Linked DNA regions of Homo sapiens: all the other regions are linked to region 2. The links come from fine-mapping of genetic effects on plasma protein levels. A gene starts in region 2. Each other region holds a variant in brackets. All regions are shown on one strand. Distances are between the middles of the regions.

Region 1 (10,792 bases), 38 kb after region 2:
CTCTGTTTACCCTAGGGAAATATTACCATTTTCTATATGTGACATGGAGTCAAGAGACCTGTTAGAAAGAACCATATTGCAGCCTGCTAGATGCTAAAATTGCTGCATCTGTGCAAATAAGAAAACAATCATTTGCAGAAAGTGGGTAGTGAGTGCTGATTTGGGAGCACAGAAAGGACATTTACAGAGACAATAACCTTTGAGCTATCTCTTAGAGTCGTTGAAATTTCAACTGGACAAGGAGTGAAGAGTGTGTGTGAAGACCACTCTATTTTTGCCTCACACCTCTATTTTAAAATTTGCCATATTTTAATGTTTTACTATATCTTCTTTAACAAGCACCTAGAGCCTCACAAGGGCCTAGTAAAAGTTTTTTTTTTTTAATAAGAAATGAACCAGGGGATAAATGACATTCTGTCCCTTCCCCTTCCCTTGAGGAGCTCACTTGGTGTAAAATGCCTCTGCAGAGCTATAATGCACAAACAACACATTTTAAAAGCGATGTCAACACCTCTTGCTTAACACTTAGTTTTCTTGCTTAAAATTGCCGTGTGAAAAGTCATTTGTAAGAAGCACAAGAAGCAATGTGCACTGTGAGTGCCTGGAATGGACATTGGGTCCTCACACTTCTGCAGCCCTGGTCTCTAGTGCCTGCTGCCAGAAAAGATGAAAAATCATTTTCCTTCCCAGCAAGAAAGCCTGAGTCTGGGAACCAGAGGTATTATTAAGACTTAAGCATCACTCCTCTCAACAGAGCACACTTGTGTTTTGTGTTATAAAATACAGAAAAGGATAAATACAGAGAAAGATAAAAAAGAAATAAAAATATGTCATTTTATAATCTAGAGATAATCATTAACATTTGGGTATATTTCCTTCCAGGTTATATATTATATAGAAAACACACCTATGTGTGTATATATATATATACACACACACCTATATATATAATTTTTGAACAGAATATTGGAACCATTCTCTATATAGGGTTTTATATCCTGTTTTATTTTTATGGGAACATTATATTGTGAACATATTTCAATGAAATTAAATGTTCCACATGATTTTTAATGGCTTTGTAATACTCCATCATACTGTTGAATTATAATTTATTCGAAGATTCCTCTATTATTGGCAAGATAGGTGGTTCTAATTTTCTTTTCTTTACTTTTATATAAAACACTGCAGTGAACACCGTAACACATAAATCTTTGCACCTGTATTTGCTTATGATAAAAGCAAAGTTTTATGCATCTGTATTTGCTTATGATAAATGAAATTATAGGGTCAAAGTAAAGTTTCTCTCTCTGTACATACTCACATGTATGTATGCACACATGTATATGTATATATGAGCTCTATTTCTGGAGGCAGCCGTTTGGGTTTTGACAGTGTCAGTGGTGGGCACACAGGTTAGCATCACAGTAGAAAGTATTCCTATTTTCAGGCTGCTCTAACTACTCAGAAAGGACCATGCATCTAGCTTAGCTTTGCTATTTAAAATATACAGCGAGTATGTGGAAAGACTTTGGGTTTTGGAATCATTAGATCATTGGACTAGGAGTCAAATTCTGCCCTACTAGCTAAGTCAAGAAGTCTCTGAATTTATCTGAAACTTACTTAGTCCCTTCATCTACAAAATAAAAATGATCAAAATAAAATAATGTATGTAAAATGCCCAACACAGTGCCTGGACATAAGGGACCCTCAATCAATGCCTCCTACTTCTGAGCCAGCAGCCTAGGGTGCATTTTCCACATTTCTGTTTACAGTGAATCATAAACTCCATTCCTCTGTAGATTTGGGCATTTGTGGACCACTAAGGAGCACATCTGAATCTTGTCAAAGGTGTAACTACTAGCTATCTTTCCAACTCCACAGGTGAGGAGAGAGACAGTCTTCTCTAGTTCATTCTATCTTTATTGTAATAGGATTGGGATCGCTGTAAAATAAAATGAAAAATTTATGCTATGGATACATGATGCGCAAACAAAATCTGTTCAATGTGGGTGGTTGGCTGGGCTCTCAATTGCTGGTTTTATGAACTACTTCCATATAGCAGCTTCACCAAAAATGGAATTTAAATTATACCTTGGCAAAAGGCTCCGCACCAGAGGTATGAATGGATAGCGGAAACCACACTAGATACTATTCTAGTTGCTTCGTATACTTTAACTTTCTTCCTCTTGGCTGGAAGTTCCATGAGAGCAGAGACATCTTTCTTTCACAACAACACACACAGTGCTGGGTGCCATGCTGAACACATAATCAAAGCTGAGTAAATATTAGTCACATAAATAAATGTATTAACCCCTCTTCAACTCAGATTCCACTGCCTGCCCACATACACACCCATGAAGTAGGCACTCTTATTATTATTCCCATTCACAGGAAAGTTAACACTGAGGGAATCAGAGCATTGATCGATGGCACAGAGCCAGTAAGTGGCAGTGAACAAAGACTAAGCCACCAAAGGCCTGTGTCATTTTCTCTATTCTGCATCTCTTACAGCTCTGGGGAGAGATGTATGGGAGAGACAAGACAGAAATTTACTGCTAAACCCCTAAAATCCTTTCTGGGTTATTCCAGGGGTCATACCAGGTTTACAGCTTCACAGATCCACCAGGTCTCTTCCAGGCCTTTGAAATGCCATCTCTTCTGTCTTTCCTGACATTCACATTTTCCTTTCATCCCATTTGGAATCTGTGCACCCTGCCTCCTCTCTGAGATCTCAAACACTTGGCACATCCCTTTGTTCTAGTTCTTCGCTCACTGTGTTACCCTGATGAGTTAAATTCCCATTCCCCTACAAGATTCTGCAAAGAGGCAGACAACTGGGCCATGTCTGTCTCTGTATTCCTGTGGCCACCCCTGTACTCCCCTGGCCTCACCAAGGCCTGGCACACTGGCCAGGTGATAAGTGCTTTCCAAATTGATGGATATCTGCTGCTGGAATTGCTGGCCTTACCCACTTGTTTGCAAACGTTAATTGGTCTCCTACTTTCTTGCATGGAACTAGCATTGTTTCCACATCTATTTTCTAAAGGTCTAGAAATCATTTTCAAATACATGATAGACTTCTTTAATAGACAATACATAACTTTTATGCAAAAAAGAACTTTTTCATGTATCTATTAAGTAGTTTTTTAAAAAGCCAATAAGTTCCTGTGGCCTTGCAATCCTCTCATCTTTAAAATGAGAGTGATGAGCCTCCATTCCAGATCTAACTACTTTATGGGATAGCTCTTAATTCTGGTTTTGCAAACACTTAAAGCCGTTGTGTTTGTTTTTTAAAACAGGTAAAATCTAAAGAGTAAATGGGTCATAGTTTACTGAAACAGTATCCTATTGTAGGATATTTAGAGAATTTTTAATACTATAAATAATTTAGCAGTATACATTCGTATAAAGAAAACCCTCTTATTTCATTTATGAGTATATAAATGACACTGTCGTGTGTAAGGCATGTTCTAGGCTCTGAGGATATAGCTGACATAACAGACAAAAATCCCTACCCCTTTGGACATTATACTTCTATATTTTAGATCATTTCCATGAGATACAGTCCCATGTTTCTGGATCAAAGAGTTTTTAGGCTCTTGATACACATTGCTGTATCATTTTCTTTCTTTTTTTTTTTTTTGAGATGGCATCTTGCTGGATGCAGTGGCATGATCTCAGCTCACTGCAACTTCCACCTCCCGTGTTCAAGCAATTCTCCTGCCTCAGCCTCCTGAGTAGCTGGGACTACAGGCACCCGCCATCACACCTGGCTAACTTTTGTATATTTAGTAGAGATGGGGGTTTCGCCATGTTGGCCAAGCTGGTTTTGAACTCCTGACCTCAGGTGATCTGCCCACCTCAGCCTCCCAAAGTGCTGGGATTACAGGTGTGAGCCACCGCGCCTGGCCTGCTATATCACTTTCTATCACACCTGACCAAGTAGGAGTTTGAGTAGGAATCTGACTCAGAGCTTGCTTTTAGAGAGTATATAACCTTTGCCAAGTTACTTTGTCTTGGTTTTTCCCTTGGACACAAACTTTCTCTCCAGTTGGCCCCCAGCTGGTACCTTATGTCCTATAGTCCTTTGTGTTCAGGAGGACTGGGTGTTGGCTGGAGGAAGTAAGTTTGGCTGGAGGAAGTAAGTTCCCATCCTTCTACCAGGTGGTTACTAAACAGATCTTGCAAATCCTGTTCTCATAAAATTACCTCTTTGGAATAAAGTTCAATACCTTAGATTTTTGCCCTGACAAATTAATTATTCAACATGGTTCATCTCTCTAGCATTCCAAGGTT[T/C]TTCTATGTTAGACATCTTTTATCCGCCATGGTTGATCACTGTCTTCACAGCATTATGTCATCTGCAGAGTGAACAGGTCTGTCTCCCTAGGCATGGATATATGCCTCAAAAACTCTATTTCCTCATCCCTCTACCTGGGATGCTCTCAGGTAGCCACAAAACTCCCTCCCTCACTTCTTTCCGGTTTCTGCTCAAATGTCACTTTTATCAGAGTCCATTTCTGACCATATTTTATAAAGCAATACCCTCATCATTCTAAACCCCATTTGCCTTCCTTTATTTTATTCATCTGACTTATCAGCCCCAGACATGTTATATGCTTGATTGCTTATTAGCTATTACCCCTACTGCAATGTGAACTCCACAAGGGTATTGCTTTGTTCAGCACTGCATCTGTTCAGCACTATAATAGGGCCTGGCACATAATAGGTGTTTAATATATAGCTGCCAATTTATTGGGTGTGCTTTTTTGAAATCAGCCTAAGAAACAAGTTGTTTTTTCATCATGAAATGACACTGACTTATGGTATTGATAAGGATTCTGGCCCCCACCCTCAGCCCATTTTCCCCCCAAAGTCAGCTGACACCCTCAGGACTTCTTCACATGGACCAATATGAAGATACATGTGCATCACATGCACAGCCACACACCCCCTGGCCCCTCCAAAACAGCTTGTACTTATGTGGCTGCCTTTCTGGGCCCTAGCATTGGGTTTTACCTGAATCCCAATTTTACCATTTTAGTGACAACATAGCCACTCCACCCCTCATTAACTATATAAGCTTGGCCACTTAATTTAAACTTGCTGAGTTTGTTTCCTTGCCTGTCAAAATTGGAGTAATACTAAGTCGAAGAGTTGTATAAGAACTTCTAATGTCTACTGTGACATGTGAAGAGCTTAGAAATCATCACTCCTGTCCTCATATGAAAAAAAGCTGAAAAACTGAAAATCAACAACTCTAATTACTTCCATCAGAGAACTGAGGTCATGAGGCAAACCTTCGCCACCTCCTTCCTCCTCCACCCCCCAAGAAATGGAGAGACAAGTGAATACTGAAAATCACAGATTCTCAGGAGCTGCTGGAAACAGTAAATGGTAGGAGGACTTAAAGGCTAACTGATGACTAGCTACAGGCTGAGTGTAGACTGCTTGGAGAGTTAAACTCCTGGGAGCCCAATCCTGAAGGGACTCCCACACTTTTGTGAATTTTAACCCCAGGAGCCCTCATCAGGTTCTCACGGTGAAAATCAGAGAAATCTCCTCCAGCTTGAGGCATGGGAAGGGAAAAAGAACCTTTTTGAAATCTGGCCAGATGCTTCTCCCTAACAAGGTCTGCCCTCAAGGAAACTACTTTACCAGAGTCTTATCTGATCCGAAGAAAGAACAATTAGCCAGGTCCAGCCCTGTCTAGCCTTCCTGTCTCATATAAAGGAAGTAAAAAAAGGCTAAGAAACTTTTCTGAAGACCACACACAAAGATTCTGCCCCAATAAAATATTGAGATTTAATCAAAAGATAGACCGTTACCCTTTCCCAATATGTTACCATTACATCAACAAGGCTCAGTATAACAACAGTGGATTACAACAGAGAGGGCTGCAAGGCATAACCTCTACTTAAGAAGGAGTTTCTAGGGAAAACCAAAGACAAAAATGAGAAGAAAGAATGACAAACAAACATAATAACCAAGAACTGCAGGAAAATTACAAAAGATGTAACATACGTATAATGGGAATATCAGACAAATAGAGAAAAGAATAGAAGAAATATTTGAAGATTAGATGAAATAATAAAAGGGCTATTATGGTAAGTAGTTGGTTCATACTAAGTGATCAATAAATGGTAGTCATAATTACTATTATTAATTGATCAACATATCAGAGGAGGGAAGAAGAGTTGAATCAAAGGCAACTGTTTAAACAGGACTTAGTCATGATCAGGCACAGGAGGGAGGACATCTTTCTTGACATGGGGAAAACAAGCAAAACTGGTAAAAATATACAACAATTTGATGAACAAGAAGGAAAGTGAGAGTAGATAGGATTACACAGGATGCCCTCCATATAATTCTGACTTTAATAGTAATATCTTCCTTATAGAATTACTGAGAAAATTAAATAATTTATAACAATGGTTTTCAACTGGTAATGAACATCAGAATCTCCTGGATACTTGTTTGTAATTCATCTCTCTGGGCCCCAAGTCAGAGAATCTGATTCTGTGCACCTAAGGGGGTGAGGAACTGGGGCTGCGGACCCTGCATCTTTTATAAGCATCTTATGTGAATCTGACACAAGTGCCCCAAAGAGCACCTTAAGAAACACATAAGCATGTTGATTAGTGACTGACCTGAAACACAGTCAACAAATGTTTTTCAAGTAGACAGAGGCAAGCTGATCTGCAGAGGGAAAGGACAGGGCTGAAGACTGGGGAGATGGAGCAAGTGCAGGAGGAATGTGGTAGGGAGTCCATGAGAGATGGATGGAAGGATCGTGTAGCAGCAGAGACCCAGTTTAGAAAACACATATTCCTAGAGGAGACTTTGAGATTGGATTTGTAACTTTCTTCATCAACTCCCAAGAGCCTGGTGGCAGGAGCCAAGCAGACAGATGGTACAGTTTTCCCAGAACTGGAAAACCCCAAACACAGTAGAAGATAGGGGGCACAGGCATCCACCAAGGGGAGAGAGAATCAGGGAACCAGGGCACTGTTGAGAAAGCTGGTCAGGGGTTCAAGTTGGCCAGGAAGATAGTACCTCTACTATCTACCTATAATTTTTTTAAAAAACCCCAAAGTCCTAGGACCCCACATCTCCTCCAACCACTACCTCATTTCTCTGCCCCACCTCGACAGCCAAGCACTTCAAGAGAGTTGTGCCTACACATGTTTTACCCACTTCTCTGCTGTTGTTCACTTCTCGACCCCCACCAAAATGGCTCTTGAGTCTTGACAGTTTCTGCAATGGCCTCCGCGTTGTCCGTGCACACTCCATCATCTTGCACACATTCCTCAGTATCGCAGAGGGAGCTGACCACTCCCTGATTCCTAGAATATTCTCTTCTCATGTCTTTCTGGTTTTATGTATTTTGCCCCAAAAAGTGGCAGCAGGGGAGTTCCCACACAAGAAAGTGCAACACACTATCCTGAAGTGGGGCTGGTTGGGATTCCAAAGAAAGGAGCACTAAGCACCAGTGAGATCAGTCCAAAACATTTATTAGGGGAACTTACTTACAGAAGTGCTGCAGTGATCCCTGCACCGAACAGCGAGAGAAAAGGGATGTTCTGCCCAGGCACAAATGCAGTGAGGGGTCCAGGGTATGGAGTTTTTATGAGGGTTTAAGGAGTTTGGCTCAGGGATGGGGCCAGTTTCTTTCAGTGTTTTAGGCAACAATCTAGATACCTTTGTCAGTGTCTGGGAATGTTCAAGGCCCCAGTTTGGGATTAAGCCTGCTGGGAATAACCCACATTTGGCTGGGTCACAGAGTGGTCAAGGCACTCTGTGATTTTCTATCAAGACACAGAAAGAAAGCGGGAGAGCTGAAGGGACCTACATAAGCACTATTGGCATTTGGGCCATATTTGAGGTTTACAACATAATGTTATGTATAGATAGTATACATAATGATATATATATAGATAGTAAAATGGTTACTGCAGTGAAGTAGGTTAACATCCATCATTGCACATAGTTACTTTTTTTGTGACAAGGGCAACTAAAATCTACTTAACCAAAATCCGTAATACAATTTTTCATCCTCATGCTATACATTAGATCTCTAGACTTGTTCATCCTATATAACTGTTATTTTGTATCCTTTGACTTACATCTTCCTATTTTTTCCTTCTCTACCCCCTTTGATAATCACTCCCTTATCTATCTCTGCATATTTGAGCTCTTTTTTTAAAAAAATGTTTCACATATAAGAGAGATCATGCAATATTTTTCTTTCTCTTTCTGGCTTACTTCACTTAGCATAATGTCTTCCAGGTCCATCTTTGTTGTGGAGAATGGCAAGATCTCTTTCTGTTCTAGGCTGAATAATATTCCATTACACACACAGACACACACACACACATACACACACACACACGTGTACATGTTCTTTCCCCATTTGTACATTTCCTACATTTTCTTTTCCCAAATGAACATGGACATTTAGGTCGTTTCCATATCCTGGCTATTGTTAATAATGTTGCAATGAACATGGGTCCACAGGTGTCTTTATGAGGTAGTGAGTTTATCTCCTCTAGGTAAATACCCAGAAGTCGGATTGCTGTATCATATGATAGTTTATTTTTAGTTGAGGAACCTCCATACCATTTTCCACCATGGCTATACCAATCTACGTTTCCATCAACAGCATACAGGGTTACCTTTTCTCCAGACCCTTACCAACATTTGCTATCTCTTGTCTTTTTGATAATAGCTATCCTTATGGATGTGAGATAATATCTTATAGTGGTTTTAATTTGCATTTCCCTGATGATTAATGATGTTGAACACCTTTTCATATACCTGTTGGCCATTTTTATATTGTCTTTGGAAAAAATGTCTGTTCAGGTTATTTGCCCATTTTTTAGTTGGGTTTTTTTGTTTTTCTGCTATTGAGTTTTAACAGTTATTTACAAATTTTAGATATTAACTCCTTATCAGATATGTGAAATGCAGTTTTTTGTTTGTTTGTTTTTTCAGTTCGTAGTTTTCCTTTTCTTTCTTTCTTTTTTCTGTGTGAGACAGGGTCTCACTCTGTCACCCAGGCTGGAGTGCAGTGGCATAATAATAGCTCACTGCAGCCCCAAACTCCTGGGCTCAAGTGATCCTCCTGCCTGGGTCTCCTGAGTAGTTGGGACTACAGGTGCATGCCACTATGTCTGGATGATTTAAAAAAAATTTTTTTAGAGATGGAGTCTCACTGTGTTGCCCAGGCTATGCCTTTTCATTTTGTTGTTTGTTTCCTTTGCTGTGAAGAAGGTTTTTAGTTTCATGTAGTTCCATTTATTTATTTTATTTTTGTAGCATGAACTGTTGGTGTGATATCCAAAAAAATTATTACAAAGGCCAATGTTGAGGAGGTTTTCTGCTATTTTCTCTTCTAGGAGATTTATGATTTCTGAGCCAGATAATTCTTTGTTGTTGGCAGCTGCCCTGTGTCCTCTGGGATGGTTGGCAGCACCCCTGGCCCCTGGCCCCACCAGTTGTGATAACCAAAAATGTTTCCAGATATTGTCTGATTCTGATGTCCCCTAGAGAACAAGATCATCCCCATTGAGATCTGCTTCTCTAAATGATGCACTCTCCAAACTCTGTCCTGTAACCTTTTCTGTCCTTTCTCTGCACAATTAGACTCATCCGTTCCATGGCTTTGAGTACCATCTGCGTGATAATGACTCCCATTCATGCTCCACGTTGAGATTTGTGGCCCACTTTGATGTTCTAGACCCTGGGCTAAATTAAGGTAAATTAAGCCTGGGGCTTTTCAAATTAGACAGAGGGAATGTAAGCCCCTGTTCTACTCTTGCTGTGTAACTTTAACTCTTTTAACCTTTGTTTCTCTGTCTGAAAAACAAATAATAAAGATGTCAAAGCTGTAAAGATGATCATTAGAGTCCTTGGCACATAGTAAGTTGCTAAGTATTATTATAACATTCATAATTCTGATCTCAATGCCTTCAGGCTATGCACAAAGGGCTTCTGGACTTAGGGTCATTCAATAGAATGTTATAGACTGTTGAAAGTTCAACTCTAGAGCCTGAGAGACCTGGGTTCAAATCCTGAATCTACAATTCTGCTCTATGACCTCTCTAAGGCTCGGTTTCTTCCTGCTTGGAAAAGGGGAATAATAATATTACCCACTTTGGAGGGTGAATCAAATGAGATCATCCTAGGAAAATCAATTAACATGATGTCTAACATACCAGTACTTAATAAACATTAGTAATTATTATTAGGGTAACATTAGAGAAGCTGATCTTTAACTGAATCTCAAGGGCTATAGAAAGAGCAGTCTCGGCAGAGCATGAATAATGGGACAGGGTAAGGAAAAGTGAGCTATAATCTGGGAATGACAAGGAGTTCTGGATTGCTAGTGCAAGGTTAGGGCTTGAGATGAAACTAATGAATTGTCATCTAAATGCCCTTCCACGCCAGTTTGGGACTATGGGCTTTATCCTTTTAGTACCTGCTAGCAGAAATTGTTTTTTGGTTTTTTTTGGCAAGGGGAGAGGGACACCAAAGAGTTTTAGATTAGGCAACAACATGATGATTAAATTTTCAACTTAGGAAGAGAGCTCTCATCAATATGGAAGAGCTTGGAGAAGATAAGAACAGAGGCAGGAAGGCTGGGTAGGAGATTGTGGCATGAACTCCAGTGAGAGATCAGGAAGGCTGCTCATCAGGAGATGAATGCCACAGACATCAAAGAGCTAACAACTGATGAGTTGAATGCAGGGGGCTGAGTAGGACTCTGAGGCTTTTTGCTTGGTCGCACGTGGTG
Region 2 (10,792 bases):
ACCTGTAGACAGCTTCCAGGCCTCCTCACCACAGATTACAATAGATTATTCAGTGCAATTCAACTCCTTCATTGCCTATCTGTTTTCTTTCTCTAGAAATCCCTTTCTATAAAATGTCCAATTTAACTCTATATATAAGAGAAACAAAAACATAAAGTTTCTAGACTCTTTTTCTGAATTAATAAAAGTAACAATAATAACTGGGTGGGGTTATTGTGACCTCATTGCAGTTTACAAATTATCTCAGTTACCCATTTGTTTCTCAAAATCCCACAAGGTAGGCAAGATGGGTATTACTATGTCCAATTTTGCACATAATCCGTGTAGATAGGTCCTGTGACTTTCCAAGACTGCACAGCTTCACATGGTGAAAACAGAAGAGCCAGCCTGGAACCCATGTACTTCAAGTCTGAATTACGGTCTAGGACGACGGTTCCTTAAACTTCAGTATGAGTTTTTCTTCAAAGTACAGATTTAGTAGGTCTGGGATGAGGTTTCGGAATCTGCCTTTGAAGCAAACATCTGATGCTCATGTTTCAATGACCATACTCAGAAAAACACTAATCTAGAAAATCCTTTTCCCCCTTCTCTCTTAAAGCGGGGAGAAAAAAGAGGGAGATCTTACCTCCTATGAATCAAAGGACTTTTCTCGCCTTGGAGAACTGGAGCCCCCAGCTCTTCTCTTCTGCGACCTACCCACACACACTGATAAAGTTAATTATCTGCCCTGGCTAAATGACTTTCCTTAGCAACACCCTAGCAACTGACATCAGCTCTGCCTTAGGCTACAAAAACTGGAAGGAGATTTCTTGAAGTCCAGTATATTTTACAAAAGAACAAAACATCTGAACAGGAAATTAAGGGGAAAGTAAACTGGATTCATTGCTAGGAGATGAGAAATAGACACATGAAATAGTTCATGACAATCCACTGGACCACAGTAGTCAAAATGGGAAACTTTTTCTCCTCCTCAGTTCTACTGAAGTCCACAGGAGGGGAGACTGCAGGATCTCATTCTATGGAGGAAAATTTAATCAGGCAGGAGGAGGGAGGGCATTCCAGGCCATGAGAAAGCTGTAAGCAAAGGTGCTGAGGCAATACTGAAGTGGAGGACACGGGGAGCCCAGCTGGGTGGTGCTGGGAGCTCAGATTGGGATCTATGACCAGGCATGACCAGATGGACACAGTGAGACCAGATTGTGGATGGCCTTAGAGGCCAAGTCTTAAAATTTGGGCAGAGTCAGAAGGCACTGAGGGTAGGCTTGTTAAAAAGTTTTTATTCAGAGAAAAAATATTTATGGAACCCCTACCAGGGGCCGGGCACTACGATGTGCACGGAAAATACAGTGGTAAGCCCCATAGACATCCCCTACCCTTCTGGAGCTTAGAATTTAGAATGGAGACAAATACTGAACAAATGTAAAATTTTAAACATCAAACTTATAAATCAATGGGTCATTATAAATCTTAATATTAAAAGAAGCCAGGTGTGGTGGCTCATGCCTGTAGTCCCAACACTTTGGGAGGCTGAGGCAGGAAGATTGCTTGAGCCCAAGAGTTTGAGACCAACCTGAGCAACATAGGAAGACCCTGCCTCAAGAAGAAAGAAGAAAGAGGAAAGGAGAAAGGAGAAAGAAGAAGGAGGAGGAGGAGAGGGAGGAGGAAGAAGGAAGAAGAAGGAGGAGGAGGAGGAGGAGATTAAAAGAAAAGGTACTCATGAGCTTCAGCAGAGTTTTGGGGGCTGGATCTATTCTAGGAAATCAGAAAGGCCTTCTTTGGGGAGGCAGTTTTGCACTGAGATCTGAAGAGTACATAGGAGTTGGCCAATGGAGAGTGGTGGCTAGGAGAGACCAAAGAGCATGATAGGATTCCAGGCAGAGAGAACAGCACAGGCAAAGCCCATGAGAGAAGAGCTGCATGGCTGGAGAAGCAGATCAAGCAGAGCCTTGGAGGCCTGGCTGAAGATTCTGTCTTTATTCTGAGAGCCCTGAAAAACCACCAAGAAAAAATGTTAACCTCAGGATTGACATTCAAATCTGCATTTTTAAAAAGATCACTTGGGCTTCAGTGCAGAAGACAGATGGAAGGAGAGCACAAGTAGACAAGGGCAACCCAGTTAGGAAGATGAGAGAGGATGTCAACACAGACAGGGGTAGTGGTGGAGAAGAGCGTGAAACTTGATGTGGTGATGGATCGGATGAGTGGAGAAGACAGCAGAGGTCTGAGTGACAGCCAAGCTGGTTTAGGAAAACCTAGCTCATGTAGTGGGATTGGAGCTTGGTGAGCTGGTTAGAGCCTGCCGTCATAGCCCAGATGATAGGGCGAACACTGTGTACTGGAAAGTACCTCATTTGGTGTTGGGGATGCCTGTTTTAAATCCTGGCTCTTTCCCTTAATAGCCATGGAACATTACCTCAGCAGGTAATTTCATAGGCTCCTAATCTGAACAATGGGAGTGCGGAGGTGAATTGGGACTGCCTACTTCCCATAGTTTTCCTGTCAATATCCAATAAAAAGTTAAATATTGCATTCCTGCCTACTTCATGCCCACCCATCTCCAACTTAGATTTGAACCTTTTGTAGATGAATAGAGGTTCAAGAGCACAGATTTGAGCTTTCAGACATAAAATAAGCTTTGTGAAGACAGGGGTCACAATTTATTCATTTCTGTAGTTTCCTGCCCTCTGAGATAAGATCAGGTACACTTTCAAGAACCACTTATTTTAGTTTGTAGCATACATCACAATTATAATTTTAAAAGATTCATATAATTATGTATTTAATATTTGCCTTTGCCACAGGCCTGTAAAATCCTCAAAGGCAAGTAACATATCTGTGTTTTGTATCCAAGCACTGAGCACGTGGAGGGTCTTTGTCATGAATGAATGGATGGATAGAAGGATGCATGGATGGATGGATGGATGAATTTTTGTTCCGTCTTCTACCTACCGGTCAGCACAGAGTCTAGCTCCAAATCTACACTTAATGAAAGTTTGCTGGATGAATGGGACCGTGCAACTTGGAGTGCAGCATGAGCTCTGAGCCAGTCGAGTGAAGATGCAGACAATTCCCTCAGCACTCAGACATGGATCTGAGCCTCACCTCAAAAAGGAGGGCCGATCAGCTGGATCAGGTGCTGCTAGGGTCAAGAAGGGCTAGGGATGAGAGAAGAGCATAATTGGCTTCAGCAAGGGGTTACTTTCAGGTGACCTCTGAGAGAAGGCGTCCAGTTAATAGTGGCAGTGGGAATTCCAGCACAAGCACTAAGGAGTAAGTGGGCAGGCAGGGAGGAATGGAGATCTCCCATGCACCTAGCGCCCTGGGCCTGTTTGTAGCATTATGAAAGAGAAAACCCTGACCTGGAAAGCAAAGGAGATTGCTTGCTAATTGTAGGCACTTGAGGTGTGTCGAAGGCCCTGGGCAAAGAGAAGACGAGGAAACCAAAGCTTCTGAGGGCACCTGGGGAGGGATGTTTGTGTGCACTGAGAGGCAGGGGGCTTATGGTATCCCCAAGCGGGTGAGGGAGCAGGCGCCACTAGAGACCAACTAGAGTGTTTTATATGGGTCATATCATTTACTTCTAGCATATCACCCCACTACCTCTAAGAAGGATGTACTGGCACCCACCCCCACTTCCTTGTTCTCCAGAGCAGGAAACAAGCTTGGAGAGTGCGATAACTAGCCCAAGCTTCACAATGGGTGAGTGGCAGGACTGAGGTTTGATTCGGGTCTCTTCCCAGAGAGACACTGGGAGAGATTCTTGCCCCAGGTCTTTTCCCTTCAGGCCCTCAGGCTCAGCACCTCTCTGAACATCTGTCCCTGGGGAGTGAGAATCTGAACTAAAATGTAAGCCAAGAAAACACAGGCTCTTCATTGAATCTTTGGAAACTCCTTTCCTGGGCTGTAGGAGGACCTTCCTGAGCCTTAGGCACTTTTGCCTTTGCTGGCTCTTTCCTCCAAGTCAAGCATATTTTATGACTGTGGAGGTATAAATACAAATATATTAACATTATATAGTAAAACATTTTGTTTGACATAAATTTTTTCTTCTGATTTTTACAGAAAACATTTTCATAGATCTCCAAAAGTATCGTGGGCCCTAAGCGCTGTAGCTAAGTCGTTTCTCCTTTCTCAGCCTCCAGTCTGACATGTTCCACTATGGCCTTGGGAAGAGCAATGGGCCCGGAGTCGCCGCATCTAACCCTGCTGTAACTGGTCGCAAGTCACAGTTTGCTCATCTATAAAGTGAGCGAAAGTAATGTAATCTTTATTGGGAGTAGGGAACATGAAGGCGAGTCGATACAGTAAGTAAGCCGCCAAGCATATTGCTAGGCACAGAGCAGGTGTGCAACAAAAGTTATTTCTCAGGCTTTCCCTCCTCTGAGCGCCGTCCTCCAGAGGGTCCGGAGTGTAGCTGGGGGTTGGAGCAGCAGCCTCCTAGGCGATGGGACAGAGCCCACAGGGTCCGGTATGCCACGGTTTCTTCGTCAGACCCTGGGAATCCAACGTCGCAAAATAAACACGGCCGCGCCGCTAATCGCCAGTTCGGAGGAAACAAAACAGCGCTGCGCTGGGGGATCTGGGCAAAATCAGCCCTCCCTCCTCCCGCTCCTTCGCCGCGGCCCTCCCCTCCTCGCGCTGCTCTCGTTCGCTTGGCTCAGCTCAGCTCAGCTCAGCGCAGCTCCGCGGCCGCCAAGCCGAGGCGGGCACGGTCTCCGAGTCGCGGACGCCAGCTCCGAGCTCCCTCTCTCCGCCGCGCCTCCGCCAGGTCGCGCCTTCGTCGGGACCACTTCGGGCAGGAGTCGCGTGGCGAAGGCCTGCGGCCGCGGCACAAAGTTGGGGGCCGCGAAGATGAGGCTGTCCCCGGCGCCCCTGAAGCTGAGCCGGACTCCGGCACTGCTGGCCCTGGCGCTGCCCCTGGCCGCGGCGCTGGCCTTCTCCGACGAGACCCTGGACAAAGTGCCCAAGTCAGAGGGCTACTGCAGCCGTATCCTGCGCGCCCAGGGCACGCGGCGCGAGGGCTACACCGAGTTCAGCCTCCGCGTGGAGGGCGACCCCGACTTCTACAAGCCGGGAACCAGCTACCGCGGTAAGTGGCCGCCCGGCGTGGCATTAGGAGAGCGGGACCCGGTCCCCGGAGGGCGCCGACCTCGCGGTGCCGGAGGAGGGCGCGCGGTCTCCGGGCGCGTGGCGCGGGTGCAGCCCGGCAAGGGCCCTTCTGTCCTGGCTGCCCTCGGCCCTTGCAGTCGCGAGCTCGGCGCGGATCATAATCCAGCGTCCCGGGCCGTCGCGGGGGCCGCAGCCAGGAGAGGCACCCCGCGTTTCCGACGCGCGGTTCCCAGGCGGAGGATGTAACTGAGCCACACGTCACGCCGGCCTGACTGCAAGGGAGGCTCGCTTCTCCCCCGGCCGTCTGCAGGAGGGAAGTAAAACTGCCTTTCTCCAAATCGGTCTGGAGGGGACCCAGGCTTCTCTTGGTCGGGTCCCGGGCAAGGCAGCCACTCCAGCTTTCCCCGCTCAGTCCCTGAAGGAGAGGGTACCCGATTCTCAAAGACTGGCCCTGGGCGGGACAGCCACTCCGGCTTCCCTGGATAGGTCCCTTCAGGAGAAGGGACTTTGGCTTCTCCCTAACCGGTCCCGGGGTGCGGGAAGGAGGGGCAGGGACAGCCTAAAGCTCCTCGAAAGGGTCCTTGGAAAGAACCCCAAATTATTCTCTCGTGGTCCCAGACGAGATAGAGTATCTTGGGTTTCCAGAACAGGTTCCCAGTGGGGACAGGGTCCTCAAAGAGCTTGGGGTAAGCTCCGAGCTGCAAGGGGAATTGGATGAAGATGGAAAGAGAAGCCCCGATGCCCGAGGCCTGCTCCCTGGAGGCCGGGGAACCTTGGCTCCGGCAGCTCGGAGTCTCCACGTCCCAGGGATGTCGCGCCTACGCCGCTCGGCTGAGAGTGGGGTTTCGGGAGCTCAGGGAGGAGGTGTCCAAGCAGGTGAGAGCCTCCTAGGCGGGACAGGCAGTTCGACCAGCACCGATCTGAAGACGCCTGACTCTGTCCCCACGCCCGCCACCTCGCTCCTCAGCAGGGTCATCTCCCCAGACATCGTTTCCCCGTGCAGCAGCAGCCGCTCTCCGGGTGGGGGACAGGTAACCAGGAAGGGAAGCGAGCCTGTCTGGCCTCACCTTAGCTCCCGCCAGGGAGCGTGTCCTCTCACCCTCGCCCCTTCATAAGTCAGCTCTGGTGCTAAGCAGGGATGAGCGGGTCACTGGGGCACCTGGTGGGGCAAATGGGCTCCCAGCTGCTGTACTTTCCTCCTCGCCTTCCCAGTTCCCCAGAGAGCCTTGGACGGAAGCGGTGGGAGCAACACAGGAGAAAGTCTGGGGCAGCGTCAGCGGGCGCCAGGGTCACGCCGGAGACCAAAGCCAGGGGCCACCCTTCTTGGAGCGCTTTTCCCCCTTTCCCGGGTTTGTGTCCCCGACTTTCTCCACCCGGAGCTACCCAAAGCCGGCTCCTTGGTGCCCTTGGCACCTTGGCGTGCTGAGCACTTTGCGAGGAACAGTCTGACCCCGGCGCGCAGCTCCGCGGGATCCTGGGTACTCCACGAAGAAAGATTCTGGGCGGAGAACACCCCGCCCAGCCCGGGAGGGAGCGCGCGGCTTGGCACCGCGGCTAGAGCGAGCCGCGCCGACGGGCGGCGACTGCCACTCGGTGCAGCCGGGAGGCGGCCGATCCTCCCTGTGGACCGCAGGGAAGCGGGTATGACTTCAGTGGCCTATTCGGCCCTCCCCAAAACTGAGGACCTGAGTTCACAGGGGAAACTGTCCCCGCTCCACGTAGCAGAGAAAGAAGTGGCTCTGGAGTCCAACAGACTTGGGTTTACTCGCTGTGTGACCTTGTGCAAGTCATTTAATTTCTCTGCACCTATTTCCTAGCTGGAAAAAAAAAAAAGCTGTTTATCCACCCTCTCTTGGTGGTAGGGAGTAAATGAGTTTACAAAGGTGAGTGTGCCTGAGCTAAAAGAGATTCCTAATAAGCCTAACAGTTGAATGTGAGGCCTTTATTGGTTTACTAATGGAGGTAGGTTCTTGATCAGATTTTTGTTTTTGAAGAGTGTTGTGCGTTTGAAAGCAGGTTTCCTCAGCTCTCCTCCAGTCCCATTCATCTACCAGTGGTTATTTGGGTCCTCATGAATTAATTGAATGAATGAATGAGGTATTTTTTCATATCAGGAGCCTTGCCTAAGACTGTTGCTAATGCAAGCCCAGGAAGATTTTTTCAGTGACTTAGACTAGTCTGAGGTTCAGGCCAAGTGTACCCAGCGTCTCTTTTCACACTAATCCTCCGTGTTTTAGTTGAGCATTGGCAGCTGGTGGCCCTAGCACTGGGAAGGAGATACAGCTGGTATTCACGGGGCCAAAGAGGTTTCAGAACTACCTAAACGTCCAGGGCCAGCAGGTGGGGAACTGGGACTGGATAGGGAGTGTCCTGGACTTTCACCCTACAGGCTACTCCTGCCTAAACAGCCATCTGGACTTTGACACCCCAACTCAGGCTATAGATTGGGCAATCATCTTTTCTCCCTTCTTATGGCTAAAAGACCTTGGAAGAGATCTTGCAGGAACCATGCTGAGGTTTTCCAAGTAAATATCCTGCAATTAGCAAACCTGATTCTGCCACTCAAAGTCCGAAAGAAAAGGTACTGGCCTAGTTTGTGACATTTTCTGTTGGCTCCTTCTTTCTTAGAATAATTATGTTAAAAGTAACTCAAACACATTCTGCTCATTGTCCTGACTTAAGGCTGTGAAGCTGGCATTCCCCTGGTGTTCTATTTGCTTTTTAATTTTTTCATGAATTAGGATTCCTCACAATCCTTGGAATCAATGACTTGTTTTCCTGCCTCAAATCTTTGTCCACAGTATTCCAGTTCATCCCCAAGCAGCTTCTGTTCTTTGTGCCTGCTGTCTAAGTACAGTCTTTAGGTACTCTAGACCGGAATAAAATGGTCACTATTAAAAAAGACTGAAACATGGAGTTTCTTCCCCAAAACCTGAATCCAGTTGAGATCATTATTTTGTCTTTTCCAAGTTGTTAGTATTATATTGATTTCCTTTTCTTTCCCACCACTTCTCTCTACTCTCCCTCCCTCTTCCCACAGTCCCCCCTCCCTCCAACGGCAATAATTGTGCTTTAGAAAGCTCTGAAAGGCCTGCTCTGTTTCTGGCCAGGGCCTCCTTTGAAAAGGAGATTACAGTGATTAAAAATAACAAGTTGAGGATCCTCAAGGGGCTTCCCTTATACAGGAGGACAATTCGCAGGACCAGCCTTTCCCAGATCACAATTTCAAGCCAAACAGAAGAAAATCCACTGAAATATTCAAGAATTGATTGAAAATAAAAGAGGCTCTTTTGTCTTACTGGAGGTCTGTTTATTAGGAAAATAAAGTCAGACTCTGGCTAATGAGAGTGGCTTTTCCTAGATGTATTTTAAAGAGACATTTCAAGGAACTTGATGGGAAAAGAATGTCCAGTAGAGGTTTCAAAAGCTGGTCCAACTTCAAGCATAATTGAGGGGTTTATCCTAAACTGGGAGGTTTGGAGACCTCCAAAGCTGCATGGTTTTTCCTTTGTCCCACACTGAGACACACACTGACCACAGGGGTGGACACCTCAGCCTGGTGGAAAGCGCACAGGCTTTGATGTTGGGTGGGTTGGTTTCAGGTCCTCCTTGGTCACATATTCACTGTGTGATCTCAGGAAGCCACTTCACCTCTCTGAGCCAATTTCTCCATCTGTAAAATGAGGGTGTTTTGATTTTTTCCCAGCATTCCTGTGAGAATTAGAAATAATTCATGTCAAAAGAAATTGTCACACAGTGGTTGCTAAAAAAATATGTTATGAGATGATTATTTTGGAAATAGAAAAATACTTAGCAGCAAAGCCCTGGATAAGATATTGTGTTAAGTTCTTCCGACTCATCTCACTTATTCCTTACAGTACTTTGAGGAAGTTTCTGATCGTTACTGTTTTATGGATGAGAAGACTAAACCTCAGAGAAGTTTATTCCTTATCCATGGTCACACAGCTAATAATCAGCAGAATCAGGATACAGTCTCAGGTCTGTCTGACTCCTAAATCTGTGCTCTTAACCAGTCTTATGTGCTGACTCAATGAAATTAGTTGGGAATAGAATGAAATTCACTCAGCTACCCTCAGCCTTCTGGATGGTGAGCCTTCCTTCAAGGAAAACAGAACAACAAATCAAGATAGTAACTGACATCTCTCAGGAGAATTACTTTATATTACTACAAAGTAATATAAAGTGATAAATCCTTATTCACATTTGCTGTTTTCTCTTATTGGCTTCAGTGTTGCATTTCCCCATAAACTAGAGGATTAATTTAGAAACATGAAGAACCTTGTCAGCCTTTGGCCAATTCCTTTTGTTTGTGGGGAAACAAAAACAAATTGGATAGGAAAAAAAAAACCCAGAAAGAAAAAAAAAAAAAGAAAAAACAGATTTGACTGTTGTTTTGTTTTTACATACAGATGTTATATGACCATGCCTGTAAAATTATATGTTTGGAAAGGACATATTTAGGCTCTAAGAAATTTACACAAGATGAGGTCTTTTAAATAAACTATTTCCTGGATGGTGGAGTTTTTAAAAACTTAAGTGCTGCTGATGATATTATAATTAAGCCACCCCTCCTACCTCTCTTCCCTTTTTTGCACCATTCCCTGCTTTTTTGTTATGTAACTATTTCTAACCATTACTTAAGTATTTAGTTCAAACTGATAATAAAAATTAGAAAATGCAAACATAGCTAATGCTTAATGGTTGTGGAGATTGTTTATTGCTCTGAGTTTTAGGAAATGAAAGAAATAAAAACATACAAAAAAGCATATCAAAATGGAATTTTTCAAGGTTTAAAACTTGAGTACTCCCCCATACACAGATAAGCTGTTTCATTACAGCTGACTCTTTCAGTTGCATCAAGAAGCTATAATCACTGATACGTTTACCACTATGGGCTGGTATATCAGGAGCTTTTCACTCTCACACTGTCCATTTGCTTGTTATACAGACTGTCACATATATATAGGTCAATATCAATTTCTGTTGTGAGGTGGGGGGACTCTTACCATGTTATATTAGTCATAGTACAGGCTAAGCTCATGTTACTAACAGAATCCAAAACACAGTGTTTTAAACAAGAGGTAAATGGGAGATCCAGCATGATGGGAGGCTTTGCTCCATAAGGCCATCCAGGAACCAGGCTCCTTCTACCTTGTTCCCTGACATCTTCTTGCACTCTGCTGTGTAGTTGGTGGCTACTTAGCCGTGTGTAGCTATGAAGTACTTGAAATGTGGCTATTCTGAATGGAGATGTGCTGTAAGTATAAAATACACAATGACTGTTGAAAATTTAGTATACAAAGAGTAAACTCATTAATTGTGTATTATTACATATTAAAATTATAATTGTATAAAGTAAAATACACTAGTTAAAACTAATTTTGCCTATTTTCACTTATGTTAATGGATACCTGGTAACAAAATTAATTTCACCCAGCTTGAGCTTATTTCTACTAAACAGCACTGTTTTAAGTTGCTGTTCTCCTCAGCACCGTTACAGCCGAGGAGAACCTCTGCACACCTGTATTCAGTCAGCATGCAGTGGACTGGGGGGAGAGGAAGTAGAGGACTTCAGTTTTCTTTTAATAATGTGACCCAGAAACTGCACCCAGCACTTCTAAACACACTCCGTTGGCAAAAATTCAGTCATGTGGTCATACCT
Region 3 (10,792 bases), 63 kb after region 2:
ATCTGGGAGGTAAAATCCTGGGCACAATTCACTTTCTACTTTATACCTATTTGTATTTTTTACCTTTAAAACAAGGCATTTAATGTCTTATTCACCTGGCCAATTATAAGCCACAGGAGGGAAGCTACCATTTCTGTTTTGTTCACCACAGTATATCATAATATCTGGCATATTACAAGCAGATGATAAATATGTGTTGAATGAGTGTATGAAAAAATAGTAAGTTGTGTTTAGAAGGAAATTCCATAGGCCAAGAGTTCAAAGATGCAGTAGTTCTGCACCAACAAGTCCCCGGGTAGACCTCAGGGACAAGGCTGCAGAAATGAAGCAGAAGTCAGGGCTGAGGGTTGTATATTGGTCTTCAGTATGAATGCCTCAGCTTCTGAAACAGCTCAGGTTGCAAAACCTGAGGAAGAAGAGGGAAAACAAGCCCCAAAGCACCAGGATCCAGTCCCTGGTTTTGTTCAGCACTTCCCAAACAGGCTGAATCTGAGAGCCAAATCACATTTTAGAATTGCAGGGCATTTTGGTGCCATTGAGTCATTTCAACTTCAGAAAACCCAAGGCCCTGGAAGGAGGAGTTCTCCAAGTTCCTACAAGACCTGAGACGACCCTGCCCTGTGTTTCCCAATTCCTGCTCTAGTGCTGGCTCCTTCTTCCAAGGACTGAACATTGTAGATTTCTGATACACACGAAGTTGTTTTCAGAGGATGTCCATTCATTTGACTCCTAAGAAACCCAGTTCTCTTAAGCACAATTCAATGGCTTGCGTCTCTAAAGTTCACTGATCACCCATCGCTCTTGCTCTTTATTTGTAAAGAACAAAGGGACCAGGGATGTAATTAACTCACCCACATTTCCCATTGTCCTTAAGTCTTTTGTGCAAGCATTGATTGTTGTTTTTATTGTTGAAAGCAGAATTGTTCTCCTGGCAACACACATCCAGAAAGAGAGCCCAGTGAGGGACTCAGCAGGTGATGCTGTTGAAGTTTGACCTTACCGTTTGGAAGAATAAAAGAAAAAGCCAAAAAAAGCAATAATTGAGCAGAGGGTCGTTATGAATTGGTTACTATTCTATACTATTAAATGCTTTGGGAGAAAAGACATTTGGTTATTTTTAAGTGCATTTAGGAATTCAGAATATCAGCCAGCTGAGCTCCCAAGTACAGGTCCTCAGGGGATTCAGTTTAATGAATCTTTAAGAGCAGCCTGTTGTTAACATATTACAATTAGCACAGGTAAATGGAGGATTCGAATGTGCTTCTGGCAAATAATCTGTTCTCACTTTTATATCTTAGTCATTACTTACTCATACATTGATGTTTACTCTGAGGTTGTTTTGCTGGGAAGAAAGGATACACTTAGCAAAGCAAGATGATATGGCAGAAGAGAGCTTGAGATTTGGGATCTAAATATGACCGGGTGGAATATTGGCTCTGTTCATTAGTACAGTCGTGTGGTCCTCAGGAAATTGCTGAAATCCTCTGAATCTGTTTCCTCCTCTATAAAATGGGGATTATAAAACCTGTTTCAGTGGATTGTTCAGCTGATTCAACCAAATCATGTTAAAAGGGCTGCTGCATAGCTCAATAAACTTTAGCTTCTTTCCCTCAAAGTTAAGCTTTTCTTCCCTGTTCATCTAAAAAATCAAGCAATGAATTACTGAAACCTTTTCATAGGGAAGAGAAGGCAATGTTTTGGGTTCTTTACCCACATTTTGCCCATACATTCGACTTTATCCAAAGAACGCTTTGAGTTGCTGCAACCACCTGCACGCTGAGAAGACAAAGGTGAGGAGTAGGGTTAAAAGCAGGTTCATGTAGGTTCAACTGGAAAACCAGCTGCCACGGAAGCCTCAGGCATATCTAAATTTGTTCCTCCCTCTTTTCCTTCCTAACTCCTTAAGGTTTGTGGGCGGGATCATGTAGGATGACGACAGCCAAAGGGAACCATCCAAGGCTCTGAGGTGGAGGGAGCTCTGCTTGTTTAAGGAACTGGAGCTCGGTGGGTGAGACAAATGGTGGCAGGAGATGATGCCTGAGAAGTTGGCAGGGACCAGATTAGGTGGGGAATTGCAAGCTGGCATTATAAAGTTTGGATTTTAAGTGTAATGGAAAGCCACTGGAAGTCTTTAAACAGGGAAGTGACATGATTTATTATTTTAAATGTGCGCTCTGGCTTCTGTGGGAAGATTGGATTGTAGGGGCTAAGTATGGAAGCAGAGAGATAAGTTAGAAGGTTGTTGCAGTGGTTTATTGAGTTTGGGTGCTTTAGGGTGCTGGAGAGAAATACTGTGAAGGTAAAACTGACAGGCAGTCAAAGGTGAGGCTTAAATGAAATAACATAAATGAAGTGCCAAGTGTGTAGTAGATAATTAACAACACAAGTTCCCTCTCTTCGTGCTACAACTATATCAACAAAGTGATGTTTTTCTCTGGAATTGGATATAGGGAGATGATAAATTAATAACCACATTTTCTCAGCTATGGATTTGTTCTTTGGAGGTGGGCTGACTGGGAGATGGAGGTCAGCTTTTGCAGATCACAGCCTGCCAACTGGGAACACTTGCGAAAGGAAGAAATAATAGAAGCAGGAAGCAGGAAAGGAGGGAAGAGCAGTATGGAAAAAAGACTGGGCCAGGTGCGGTGGCTCACGCCTGTAATCCCAGCACTTTGGGAGGCTGAGGTGGGCAGATCATGAGGTCAAGAGTGCAAGACCGGCCTGACCAACATGGTGAAACCCCATCTCTACTAAGAAAACAAAAATTAGCTGGGCGTAGTGGTGGGCGCCTGTAATCCCAGCTACTTGGGAGGCTGAGGCAGGAGAATCACTTGAACCCGGGAGGCCGAGGTTGGAGTGAGCCAAGATTGGGCCACTGCACTCCAGCCTCGGTGACAGTGCGAGACTCCATCTCAAAGAAAAAAAAAAAAGACTGGAAGGAGCAATTTGGGGACCTTATCTCCCTCACAAGGCATGTGACAGTGGTATGGCTTGGCTGCTTCAGTGCCCTAGTACTCAAACCCCTAAAGGGAGAATGCAGATGGACAGGTGCAGAGGTCATGGGGAGCACTTTTGGGCTTCAACCCCACGGCAGTATCTTGGGGTGAGTGCTTACGACTCTTGAAGCCCCAGTGGGTGTGTGTTACAGTGTGCTCTTTCTGCTTTGCCATCTGCAGGTGGCTTGTGTTAATCAGCTCAAGTAGACCCTCTGCCTTATCGCAAGAGCAGAGGGCTTTCTGTATCCTGAGTTCTTGCCCAGTGTACCAGAAAAATTTGATCACAGGTGGGCTTGGTGCAAGGTTCTGTTGAGTGGTGGAGGTGGCGCTCAGCAAGATGGATGGGGGGCCAGAAGAGGGATGGAGTGGGAAGGTGGTCTTCCCCTGGAGTCAGGCTACCCAGTGGCAGACTGTCCTCTGATGGCCCCTGGCTGAACTCCCCTCAGAGTCCGCATTGTTCCACCATCGCTGGTCTGCCAGTGTCTGCTGGTGTGGTCCTCTGCTCCTCCGATGTCTAGCCGCTTGTGTGTGTGCCTGCTAAGGTCTCGGGTTTATATGGGCACAGGATGGGGGGCATGGCTGGCCAGAGTGGTCTTGGAAAATGCAACATTTGGGCACAAAAACAAGAGTGCCTGTTCTCTCTTAGGTCCATGGGCACAGGCCCAAGGGTGGAGCCCCTGCCAGGGACCCCACTCTTCTCTACCCAGGGCTTCCCTGCCCTACTTCCGCATCACTGAGAAATGTGAGGACATTGGTGTGTGTGGAAGGTGCTGGCATAACAGCTGGAGTTGCATCCTTCAAGTGACAATATAGGTATATCAGGGCAGTCTGCTATGATTAGAACTGAAAAGAATCTGGAGGCCATATCATCTGAATTCCTCATTTTAGGAAACTGATCTCTAGAGAGAAAAAGTGACTTGGGCAAAGCCACAGAGATAATGGCAGAGGCAGGGCTGGTAGCAAACTAGAGTGGGAAGAGATTGAGTTTTAAAGTAAGAGACTGGGGGTGCAGTCATTTATTCAGCAAACATGTACCAAGCTCCTGTTCCATGTCAGACCCAAGTCTAGGCACCGGGAACACAGTCAAATAAAACAGACAAGGCTCCTGCCCCCATGGAGCTTACATTCTCATTCCTCCTCTTACAGACTCTTCTGAGACTACCATGGCAGTCCACCTAGTTTGCCTTCATGAATCGATTTCCTCTTCTCTAAAAAGGGAGTAGCAATACCTCTTTAATTTTAATTAATTCATTTATTCATTCTACAAATATTGATCAAGTATATATGATGTGCCAGGCACAATGCTAGGTGCTGGTGACCCAAAAGTAAGCAAGGTAGAACCAGCCCCTGCTTTCAGATATGACGAACTAGAGGCAAGATGGTTGTCATCTTAAATGTCCATCAAAATCACCTGAAGCCCTTAGGAGGTCACTGCTGCCCTGGCCCCATGCCTGGAGCTGTCGATTCCACTGCTCTGGGGTGGGGCTAGGCATCACTATTTTCACAAACCTTCCAGGTGGTTCTTATAGGGGTGGGGTGAAGAAGTGCTGGAGAGGCAAAGATAAAGGGTCATGCGGGTGGTGGTTTGGCAGGTGGAGGGTGCAGCCTATCAGACCTGGGTTCTTGGGGCTGGGAAATGCTTCCCAGAGGAAGTGACTCATCAGGTGAGACCATGAGTAGGACTAGTCCAGGAACAAGAAGTGGGAGCAGTGTCTGGGAAGGCCAGAGCCCCCAGAGGTTGCTCTGAGGGTAAAAGGGGTAACAGAGGTGGACCATAGTCCGTGGTCAGAGACAAGAACTATGCCATTGTTCCTTTGCCTGTTTCTCTCTCTTTGTTCTTTCCAGCCCCACTCCCTTCCTGTTATGTTCTTTATCCTACAATACACCATACTGACAGCACAACAGCTGATTCTCCAGCTCCTAATAATTATCTGAAAGAGCTTCCTCCTGTCATCCATCTCATGTCCACTGCTTCTCTGCAAGGCAGGAGCCAGCCTCCGGCTCCCTTCCCACAGCTTCCAGCTCAATTGCCTCCCTACAGCAGAGGGAAATGCTCTCTTTGCTGCATGATTTGATCAGTGTATTCCCCCCAACCCTCCACCTTCAGGTGCACAAAGACAAAATGCATTCTCTTCAGATATTTGATTTGTTTTGCAAGTAAGTGCTCAGTACCCACCAGCTGATAACCACATTGGATGTGTTTGACAAATAGTCCTTGAGTGTTACCATAAATCTATAACTTGATGAGAGATTCTTATTGTCAAAATATAATTAGATCAAAGTTTGGTATTTCCCAAGGGTGTAAGGAAGTTCATGGATGTGTACCATATTCAGTAAGATATACATCTGTGCATGATGTCTGCCATTGTCACTCTAAAACAAGAGGGAAATCTGACATGCTTTTACGTCCTAAAGAAGGAAGATATTCAGTGACTTGTTTAAGTCTCTTCTGAAATAACCCTCAGCAGAGCCTGAGTTTATTCTCAAGGCGAGGGGGTGGGGGAAACGGGGTGCACAAACAGTTTTGATCCCATGCCGATGTCTGCTGACTTACGCAGAGAATACAACAAGCTTCAGGGTTAAGGAAAGGATAACAGGGAGGTTGAGAAAGAAAAATCAGTCTGCTGGAAATGTCATTGTCTTAAGCGAGGGTGGAGGAGAGTTGGAGAGTCCTTCTCTTCTATGTATAATCTTCTCAATGCATTGTAAAATGTTTTAAAGGGATTATATTATTTCTCCTGCCTGTGAGGTTACCCCAACTTGTCTCCTCCTCTCTCCCCATTTTTCCCATTTTTGGCTCTTTTGACATGTAAGTGAGACCAGAAACAAAGGCTGTCATCTCATCCAGG[C/T]AGCCATTTGTCCACACTTACCAGTAAACTGAATTTGCCAAGAACTCCCACTCTGCAGTCTCTGGGAGAGGCAAGATGATAAGCTTGTGCCTCTGATAAAGCCTGCAGCCTGGGATGATCTGGGCTGAGTGGGGAGACTGAATCCATGGGAAACTGCATCCCTTGAGGAGACTCGTCTGGACTTCTCTCTGCCGGGAGGCACTGGCGTTGTAAGAAATGAAGGAATGGGGTCAGGGGTGGGGAGCATCCACAACTCAGATGTTTAAAGAGCCAGAGCTGCAAACAAAATCTGGCTAGGAACAGTTTTCTTCGACTGACCTCACTAGATGCCTCTTTCCAAAATTCCAAGCCCTCTTGGGGCACACGGGGTCTTTCTGGAAGTTGGTGATGTCGTGGAAAGGTCACTAGGTTTGGATCCAAACTGCCTAGTATGAGTTTACCATGAGCTTCAATAATCTGATCAAGTTCCAACATTCCTCTGAGCTTCAGTTGCTTCTGTGAGATGGAAAACACCATCCCTTCTCAGGACTGTCAGGGACTTTAAATGAGCTGACATAGTTAATACAAATAAACCACCAGCACAGTGACTGGGACACAGAAGGACCTCAGCAAACTGAGTTTTTGCTCCTTTTTCCTTTGCTAAATGAAATCAAACCATTGCAAACCCCATTAGTGTATAAGAGACATTCATTTGTCCATCCCTGAAGGTGTAAGCACAATATAAAAAGGCTTCCCAAACTACTCAGGCGGAGCAGGATAGAGAGATGTATGTTTTGCTGAGCTGATCATAAATCTGAATGAAGTAATTATGTAAAGTATTCAAGAGCAATTCAGTAAGAAGATGCCTCATCTGCCTTGATGGGCTTTTCAATTACTCATTTTTAGTACTGCATTATACTGTTCTCTGGCAATAATTATTAAACATTTCAACTGTACTGCTATATAAAACTTAAAAGGCTGATTTATTTCCTAGGCATTAGACTACATTGAATAAAATCCCCCAATTACATGGTTCTATTTTTTAAAACCTGTTTATCAGTGATTTTCTAGTATTGAGTCAAAACTGACAGCAGGTCCTCATGTGAAAAATAAGGGTACAGTGTGTTAAATCCAGCGGTTATTAGCTTTGGGGTCATGGAGGATATTAATACAGACCCCCTACTTGCTAGTCCCAGTTTCTGAATCTGTAAAATGGGGATAATTCCCACTTCACTGGATTATTGTTTGAAATAATGGATACAAAGTGTTAGCAAGAATGTAGAGTCTGTGCCAGGTTTGGTGGCTCACACCTGTAATCTCAGCTCTTTGGGAGGCTGAGGCAGGAGGATTGCTTGAACCCAGGAGTTTGAGACCAACCTGGGCAACATAGACCTCATCTCTACAAAATATAAAAAATAAAAAATATTACCTCGGCATGGTGGCGTGTGCCTGTGGTCCTAGCTACTAGATAGGATTGCTTGAGTCCAGGAGTTCAAGGTTATAGTGAGCTATGATCTTGTCACTTCACTCTAGCCGGGGCACAGAGTGAGACCCTGTCTCAAAAATAAATAAAAATAAAATTTTAAAAAAGAATATAGGGTATTTACTTATTAAACACTAGATATTCTGAGATTCACTGGCATTTACATATAGCCAGTGAGAATCTTCCCACTTATTCAGTGTATATGCATCAATCACCTACTAGGCTCTAGGCACTCAAGATGCCACCAGGGCCCATTCTCTGATTGTCACTTCAATGACTCAAAGTCATGGTCATCAAGCATCTAGCAGCTCCAGGTCCCCTTCTGGGCTCTGTACACAGGACATCTTTCATCATGTGTAGCCATTTTCCACATAAGGATGTGTACTCACAGAGAGTTGGGTGACTTTACTCAAGGTCATTCAGTAGCTAAGGCAGAAATCAGACCTATGTCTGCTGGCTCCAAAGTCCACATCTTCTCTCCCCACTACCCCATGCTACCTCTCAGGATTCCAGGAGCACATTTCACCTGGTTTGAAGGATAATTCCTCCTCCTCTTCCTGGTTTTTCTAGAGGAGATAGCTCTTTTCTTATTGAGGATTACCCACCCCTGAAAAATTACCACTTTCCCGAAGTCTGTCTCTACTTTTCTCAGCATCTTCCAATTCTCACCTGGAAGATGAGGCTTTCTATTCTAACTGAGGACTACACCATGATTCAGGCAGTGACCCCTACACACACACACACACACACAAGCATGTGTGTGCCCAGTTCTACTGGAGCCTGTCCATTGTACTTGAGGCTCCCAAGCCAAACTGGATTTAGGTGCAGGCCAGCTGGGCTGGTACCCTGGATACCAGTCTGTAAAGAGAACTAAAATGCTGCTGGAAATGTAATACAGTGGAGAAAATGGTCTTTACCAGAATTGTTGAGAGCAAGCGGGACACGAGAATGATAATAATAATATTTATCAATGCACAGTGATTATAATATACACTGATAGTTTTGTTGATAAACTTTCTCCTTAGTTCAGCCAAAACCGGGCTCTTGTCACATGATCAGGAAAAGATTAGGCTTGTGGACACAGAATGGTGAGGAAAACAGAATTTATTGGGTGAAAAGGAAAAAGGAAAAGCAACTCTCAGCAAAGTGAGAGAGTCCTCCTATCAGGTTTCCCGCCTCACACGTTGAATCCCAGGTCACCACATAGCAACGGGAGAGGCCAGGCTCCTCCCCACTGAACTTCCTGAGGCTCCACCCCATTCTCCCAGTGCTCAGGTGGGCGTTATTCAGAAAGAATCAGTCAGGAAAGGGTGGCTTCATCCAGGAAGTGTAGTCAGGTTTTTCAGCCTTCAGGCTGTTTTAGGTTTAAATATGGAGTTTTGCTGGGGACCCTTGGCTGCCTCCTGTCTCCACTGGTTTTGTGCCAGAAGCTTCTCTAACAACTTTGTATATGAATTCATATAAACACTTCTGGCCCATTGAGGTAGATGCTATTATCAGTCCCCATTTTACAGATAAGGAGAATCAGTCCAGAAAAGTTAAGGAACTTGCCAGAGTCACACCAGTAATAAATAGGCTGCTGGACTCTCCTAGGACTTTGTATTGTCTCCTGGTAGGGGGAAAACCCCCAAGAGCACTTAAGTGACAAGAGCTGGTATCTCAGTGACCTTCCAGGCCTCTTAGTTGCTGGGTGAGGTATGCAAGTTTAGGGCAGCAGTTGAACTACTCAGGTTAATAGAGTGAGCAGTGCTGAGCTGGCAGTCTGCCTGCCCTCCTCCCACGCAGCACTCAGCCTATCCTCCAAATGAATGTTGGGCAAATATTTAGAGAATATCGTTTTGAAAGGGGGCCAGGTTATTAGCCTGCCCAGGGCGCCTACGCATCTTGGCCCAGCCTTGCTCCCAAGCCTGGCCTGCTGTCTGTGCTCCTAATATGTGAAACAACTCACATAGCATGGAGGATTAATCTGCTTTTGGGGGAGAAATGCAATCTGGTGTTTCTCAGGACTAAACTTCTGTGGATTGGATGCCACATGCCCGGTGCCAGAGGGTCCGCCAATGGTGCTCGTGGCCACGTCACCTCCCCCACAATCCCACGTGCTTCTCAAGTCTGGAAAGCACAGGGTACACTCCCGGGAAGAGAAAATAAAGCAAGTGAGATTTTAAAAGATGAATAAGATGGAGGTAAGAATCCGTTTGAAGAGATGCTAATGCAAAAAGGGATGCTAGTTCAGAGACATGCAAATCAAAACTACAACGAGGCACCACCTAACAGCAGTCAGAATGGCTGTTGTTAAAAAGACAAAAAATAACAGATGCTAGCAAGGCTGCGGAGAAAAGGGAACACTTGTACACTGTAGGTGGGAATGTAAGTTAGTTTGTCCACTGTGGAAAGCAGTTTGGAGATTTCTCCAAGAACTAAAAACAGAACTAGGATTTGTTCCAGCAATCCCATTACTGGGTATATATGCAAAGGAAAATAAATTGTTCTACAAAAAAGACATAAGCACTCATATGTTCATTACAGTACTATTCACAATAGCAACGACATGGCATCAACTTAGGTGTTTGTCAGTGGTGAACTGGATAAAGAAAATGTGGTACATATATACCATGGAATACTACATAGCTATAAATAATAAAATCTATCCTTTGCAGCAATATGGATGCAGCTGGAGGCCATCATCCGAAGCAAATTAACTCAGGAACAGAAAACCAATACCACATGTTCTCACTTGTAAGTGGGAGCAAAACACTGGATTCATATGGACATAAAGATGGAAATGATAGACACCAGGGGCTACCGGAGCAGGAAGAGATTAATGGGGAAAGGTCTGAAAGACTACCTTTTGTGTACTGTGCTCACTACCTGGGTGATGGGATCATTCGTAACAAACCTGTACATGTACACCCTGAAGTTGAAATTATATATTTTTAAAAAGGATGCTATAACTTTTGTGAAAGTTAGGCTGGAAGATGGGGGTATTTGTAGGGAAAAGGGACAGGATTTAAGCCTAAATCTTTACAGTTTAGAAGAGAGGCCACTGACAAAAAGTACACTGAATAACGCAGTCAATGCAGCCATTCAAATTATGTTTCTGTTAAGTTCAGAAAAACCTGGAAAAATATTGAGGCTCCTAGGACAAATGGAAAAAGAAACAAGACACATTATATAAACAAAATCAGTACCGCTATTAACAAATTTTAAAGAATACATGGAGAAAAGGCTAGAAGGAAACAAACCAAAATTATTCAAACAGTGGAGGATTTTTTTTTTTCCTTTACTTTTCTGTCCTGGTTAACGTTTCTATGATAAACTTACTTTTTAAATCAATAAGGGCAAAATCTGAATTTTAAAAAATCTATATTGAAAGCCCTTTCATAAAAGACAAAAGCAACTGTCTTTCCTTCCATGGCTTTCAGATTGAAAAAATACACGTAGGAAACTAGTAAGAGGTGATTCAATGACTGGGATTATTTTCTTTG

Which allele goes with the higher level. Positions count from the first base shown, and alleles are read on the strand shown. Strength reflects both the effect of a copy and how common the allele is. Not every link is listed here.
In carriers of allele C in region 3, the plasma level of the protein whose gene starts at base 4,670 in region 2 tends to be higher than with T alone (strong association).

What was found. A credible set is the group of variants that fine-mapping cannot tell apart. PIP is the posterior inclusion probability: the model's chance that the variant is causal. Protein levels are from antibody-based Olink assays in UK Biobank. Linkage for the fine-mapping came from a reference panel and not from the study's own genotypes, which makes the PIPs less certain.
Region 1: its variant is the best candidate, but not a certain one, in a credible set for the plasma level of the SPON1 protein (UK Biobank, PIP 0.50).
Region 3: its variant is the best candidate, but not a certain one, in a credible set for the plasma level of the SPON1 protein (UK Biobank, PIP 0.82).

Annotation. Positions count from the first base shown.
Region 1 is chr11:13,995,796-14,006,587 of GRCh38, forward strand. All of the region lies in intron 2 of SPON1 (spondin 1), which reads left to right. Among named protein-coding and RNA genes, the nearest start is that of SPON1, 38 kb to the left of the region's middle. The variant T/C (reference allele first, on the strand shown) is at 4,297.
Region 2 is chr11:13,958,054-13,968,845 of GRCh38, forward strand. SPON1 (spondin 1) reads left to right here and starts at 4,670. Exons shown (of 16, transcript NM_006108.4): 1 at 4,670-5,089. The coding sequence starts at 4,852. It overlaps LOC124902637 (a long non-coding RNA gene), which reads left to right and starts at 5,104. Exons shown (of 2, transcript XR_007062602.1): 1 at 5,104-6,992; 2 at 8,988-9,816. RefSeq lists an enhancer at 7,955-8,473.
Region 3 is chr11:14,021,088-14,031,879 of GRCh38, forward strand. The region is part of intron 2 of SPON1 (spondin 1); the gene reads left to right. Among named protein-coding and RNA genes, the nearest start is that of SPON1, 64 kb to the left of the region's middle. RefSeq lists an enhancer at 598-1,105. The variant C/T (reference allele first, on the strand shown) is at 5,846.